2 separate regions of the Homo sapiens genome follow, and region 2 is linked to region 1. The links come from fine-mapping of genetic effects on gene expression. Tissue or cell type: testis. Region 1 holds a variant in brackets; the other region holds the start of a gene. All regions are shown on one strand. Distances are from middle to middle.

The links. PIP is the estimated chance that this variant, and not a neighbour inherited with it, causes the effect. A credible set is the group of variants that fine-mapping cannot tell apart.
Region 2: it holds the start of NELL1-AS1, and the variant in region 1 is the best candidate, but not a certain one, in a credible set for the expression of NELL1-AS1 in testis (GTEx, PIP 0.70).

What each region holds. Positions count from the first base shown.
Region 1 is chr11:21,308,771-21,311,700 of GRCh38, reverse strand. All of the region lies in intron 14 of NELL1 (neural EGFL like 1), which reads right to left. Among named protein-coding and RNA genes, the nearest start is that of NELL1-AS1, 48 kb to the right of the region's middle. The variant T/C (reference allele first, on the strand shown) is at 1,487.
Region 2 is chr11:21,261,360-21,264,289 of GRCh38, reverse strand. It overlaps NELL1-AS1 (NELL1 antisense RNA 1), which reads left to right and starts at 1,723. Exons shown (of 2, transcript NR_199070.1): 1 at 1,723-1,752. All of the region lies in intron 14 of NELL1 (neural EGFL like 1), which reads right to left.

The sequences.
Region 1 (2,930 bases):
ATTAGAAGAAATTATTTGACCTCTTTTTATGAAAATGTTCAGCATTATCCATTATGAAGGATAGGTTCAACATGCTCTAGAGACAGTCCCAATTCTTGCATTAAAAGTTAATTGAGGCATTAATAGTCACACTTTATTTTAGAGGTTCTTAAACAGGATCCCGGCTACACAGTGGCAGGTTGTTAATATTTGTGTAAAAAGAGATAAAAATTATGTATTTGATTTTATGCAAATATAAAAAAGCAGTTCCCAAAATACATATGCCTTCAAAGCCCCAAATATACGTATGTAAACAAGAAGGACAAATTGGGCAAAATAATGCACTTATTTTCCCAGGCATGTGAAATACACACTTTAGTAAAAAGGTAATTAAACCTACCTATCAGTACAGAGTAACAAAATAATCGCCTTAAAGACATATATTCCACACAGATTTATGCTGTCTTTCTGTTCTAATATAATTTTATAACATTTAGTTTACAAAAATTGACTAAAGAGATATTTAGTATATTGCTTTGCAATGCAACATTTAATTTTATAGCATGGGTAATGCATTTCTTTTTACAAATGTATCAGTTTCCTGACAGCATCAATAAGCTGCTTCAGAGTCATTAAACACTATGAGAAGCCAGTAAAGCTACAGATTTTGTTACTGAAACGCACAGATTAATTTTCAGCTCATAAAGCCAGTACATGGGTTACTTGCTTGGTGTCTGCTGCCCATATACCGAAGCTTGAAAAGAAAGCTCAGTCAACTTGAATGACAGATTATATTCAAATTAAAACCTTTCAATGAATTCTCAGCACCCATCAGATACAGATGAATATATCTAACATGCACTCAGGTCTCTGCAGGATCTAGCCCACATTACCTTCTGAGACTTCTCCCCTTCCACTCCAACATGGAAAGTTCCTCCCATCTCTGAACCTGCATAGCATCAACAAGCTGATTCCATTCTATACATAGCCTATAACAACATTTTCTGCTTGGACACCATCTTTCCAAATCGCATCCTGTGTTAGATTTCTATAATGCAACATCAACCTCACAGATGATCAAAAGGAATGTCAGCAAATTTTGATACCTTCTTAGTTCAACCTGTGATTTCCTCATGATGGCCTTCCTTGACCCAGGAGCTAGGTCAAGTTTATAATCATACACTCAATATTACTTCACAGTATGTACCACAATTGTCCTATTATGTGAAATGATACATCTTCTGACTAGATTACCAATATTAGGAGGACCGAAACCATGTTTGTTTTTGCTTTACATTGCCAACCATGATGCTTGACACATAGCAGCCACTCAGTGAATATTTGCTGAGTGAAATTTATATTACTCCTTGCATAGCACTAAATGTCAAGGTAATACCGTAATTATCAGCATGTCTGGATATTAATCACAGTGATAGTCAATGTTAGTATTATTTATTAGGATTGATGTAAAAGAAAGCACACATGTTTCAGGGCCAGGTAGATCTGG[T/C]TTCAAATCTGAGTTCTGCCACATACTAGTTCTACATAGGCTTAACAAGTAAATAGTTATTTTGAACCTCATTCTTCTTATCTATTATTTTAAATTAAATAGCTGTTTTCTCATATAGTTCTTTTGAGGTTAAAAAATAATTCATCTAATGTACTTATCAGAACTCCCTACATATTCTATTAAGTAGAAATGCCTTTATGTGAAGACTAAGAAGTTGTATCTGCCATGCCTATCCTATCTAAAATAAACTACATCATTAAGATCATAAGTCTTATGGTTTAGCTGTGTCCCCACCAAAATCTCACCTTGAATTGTAACTCCCACAATTCCCACATCATGGGAGGAACCCAGGGGGAGGTGACTGAATTAATGGGGTGCGTCTTTCCTGCACTGTTCTCATGATAGTGAATGAGTCTCACAAGATCTGATGGTTTCAAAACTGGGACTTTCCCTGTACAAGCTCTCTCTTTGCCTGACGCCATCCATATAAGACGTGACTTACTCCTCCTTGCCTTCTGCCGTGATTGTGAGGCCTCCCCAGCCATGTGGAACTGTAACTCCATTAAGCCTCTTTTCCTTCCCAGTCTCAGGTATGTCTTTATCAGTAGCATGAAAATGGACTAATACAATAAGCAACATTAGAATACCGACTGGAATGAAGAATAAGTTAGTATTTGTAAAGTGAAAGATTAAAAATAACTTACAATTTCTAAAAGTTCCCATCCACTCATTCAATTTGGAAGGGGTAAGGTAAACTCATTTTAAGGAATATTTGTTTTCACATCATTTCTTATTGTGGAAGTAGAGTTTGAATAATAAAAAGCAGGAAAGTCAAGCATTTTAAAAATCATTCTAAGAAATGATAGAAAGTTTATTCATATTCAGGAAATATATATATATATTATATATATATACATATATATATATATATATACATATATATATATATATATACATATATATATTTAGAGTGGGTTTTTTTAATAGGCTTTAAGAGGCATACATAGAGTAATAAAACCAGCTTTGGAGTTTGACCTGAATCAAACTGCTTGTTATGTGACCTTAATAACATTAACTTTCTCTGTCCAGCTGATTCTTTAATAAAATAGGGACAATACCCTTACTATACAAAATAAATGTAAAACTTAAATGAAAGCATATGCTAAATGTCTAAAATGATGTCTGGCTCAAATAAGTGTTTCCCAAAAATGATAACTACTTGGGTTTAGCTGAAAGTTAACACCACCCAGGAACTTTGCTTTTTTTTCAAGGCATTTTAGAGCCTTCTTGCTCCTAAACTCTTTTCCTTTTGATAAAATTCCTATAATGTAATAGCAACCCCATGGGATGATCAAAAGGAACATGTTTGACATACTGTATGTGAGTGGTTCAAGGAGGAAATTAAGCACTTTACTATGTGTATAATTAGAAATAATGTCAGTGG
Region 2 (2,930 bases), 47 kb after region 1:
GAGATGCCAAAAAGATTAATAACTCAAAGTCAGCAGAAGATTCAATCTCGGTCTCTTCCTCCTAAGCCTGTGCTCTTTTTCCCTATATCATGCTGCTTTTCTTCTCCTGTGCTTTTATATGTCTCTAGGTGCTACATTCCCCCTCCCACCCCTATTCCTAAGGAGGGAAGGATGAGACAGACAGACACACAAACACACACACACACACACACACACACCCCATTGTAGACTTTCAGACATCTAACAGAGAAGCTGGTAATTAGGCAAAACAAAAAAATTCTCTATAAACAAGTTTCCAAATAAACATGGTTGGCTAAATGCACATAATTTCATCTGCTCCTTCTTGAAATTTCATTAAAGTTATATATTTAAGAGCTTTTTTTCCATTTTTTAAGGATTATATACCTATAAAGGCTGTGAGAATTGTAACTCAACAAAATTTTGAAAACTTAGAAGCAGATGAAGGAGTGATGACTGCTTTCTCAGATCTGAAAAAGCTGAATTCAAACACTCAGTGAGAAAAGCCAAGAAACAATTTGTTTTGCACCATGGGATTTAAGAGGCTCAGGAATTAACACCACCAGATACTTCTGACAATGGCAGCTAAATATAGGATGAAAGTCTCCTTAAAAACTAGGTATACACCTGGTTCCTCTTCCCATTCTGCCCAGTTAGATGACTGCCTCTCCACCAGCCTAGAAAAAGATGGGAGATTTATTTTCTGCACTATGGAACACCACACACAACTGAATGCAGATTCCATATTGAATACCGGGAAATCAGTGAAAGTGTATATGGCAATCAGAATGCTGAAAGATGGCTTTTATTGCCTGGGCAGGAATTTTGAAGAATATTTTCTAAGGAAACAAACAAACTAAAAATACTTAAATTGACAATCAGGTGTTTCCTGAGAGAATGAATGGCTCGCCGTTACCCCACATTGAATTTAATCATTAACAATCACATCTCCAGTTGCACAGAGCTTTCGATTAGTGTTTTATTGCAGAGCTCTTAAGTATGAGTGGAAAGCCGGGTTAAACATTTGAGGGAGGCTTCTAACATAAAAGACAAAAGCCACAGCAAATTTGTAGACAAACCCAAGAAGAAGGATGTGAGAACTCCATTAACAGAACACTTCATTATCACTATCCCTTGATTACTCACCATGATTAATGTCCTAAGAGTGAAAGGACACCATGTTCATGAAACAGAGTATGCTATGAGAAAACACAGGAAGAGAAAAAGCAGTCTTGAAACATAAAAGAGGACAACAGAAATGAAAAGGGTTACAAGATAAAGTGAACGAAGTCTCCAGATATTAGAAGAAAATGACAAATATATGTAAAATAAGAAGACAAGTATAAAAATTGAAAAATCAGAAAGTCCAGCATCAAAATAACAGGAAAGCTAGAAAAAGAAAGAGAAGACCAAGGAAAAAGGAGTAAGAGTACAGGAGAAGTCACCAAAGATATCATGTCAGAACATTTACAGACTTAAATGTTATGAATATCTAGATTGAAAAAGTCCACTGAGTGACCAACAGGATGAAGAAAATGTATACCAATATCATCATGAAATTTAAAACAATGGATTTCAAAACCAAAGATAAAAAGTCAGAATAGCATTGGGCTTCTCAAATTCCATACAGGAACCTAGGATACAATGGAACAATGCTTTCAGAATCCTGAGGAAGGAACAATGATTTACAAACAGAAATACAATACCTTTTCAAATTGCCAGTCAAGAGTGAAGGTATAATTATTTTTAAAATGTATATGTTTTGTTTGCCATGTGCCAGATAGTTTTCTTAGCAATTTGTAAATATTAACTCACTTCATAAGACAGTTATCAGAGCAGAAATTTCTCAAAACCTCATCTCCCATGTAGTCTTTCTCAGGTAATTAATGGAGAACCAAGCCAGAGCGGTCAACTAAGAAAAGTAAGCACAGTACATAGGAACGGGGCTCTCACCCGACAGAGAGGCAAAAAGGACCCCAGAGTCATGGTACAGATATATTCCCAGGACATTCACTACACAGTGAACCTGGAAATCAACCAAACTGTGGGGGAGATTTATTCCAGAACATAAAAGAGTTAATGTCTTAGAGGGTATTTATACAACTAGAGGGAGTTTGAGGATTAATTATGATAATACCATAGTAAACTAAATAATAAGATTAATAAATTAGATGATTCTTAATGACAAGAGGAACGAAGAGCTATGCAAGAAAGAAAATCAAGTATATTCCATGATTAGATTATCAATAGCACACGCACAATCGTAATAACATAAACGATACTAACCTAACGAGAAGATATGTGGAGAGGTGTGTAAAAAAATGAAAACTTAAAAATATCACAAAGTAGCAAAGAAATGTGCTATTTAAAGATCTGAACGAAAACACCAATTGAATCTGTTAAAAGCATTGAAAGTGGTTGCCTCTAGGGATAGGAAATAGGGAACTGTTTCCAAGGGATTAATCTTCCCTATAAAACTTTCTAGAACTGTTTAGTTCTTTAAACTACATGTATGTAGAGACTTGAAATTACAAAATAATTTCTCAGTGTTCATAAACAGATTTTTCCTTTGAGGCAGTACTGCATAAAGGTTAAAAATTAGCAGATTGCTTGGGTTTAATCCTGGCTCTTTCATTAATAGCTACTTGACCTTGGGCAAATTCTTTAATCGCTCTCTGCCTCTGTTTCCTCTTGTGTAAATGCAGGTAGGTAATAGTATCTTCCTCACAGAGTTTTGTGAGGGCTAAATATATGCAATTTGAACAGTGCCTAGCTCAACATGAAGTTTATGATCATAATTAGTCGTACAAATGGAATATTTGAGGGTATTTTAGGTCCATCTAAATAATAAAAGAAATAAAACTAAAGCAACAGGACATGTAGAGGGGAACAACACACTGGAGCCTTTCAAA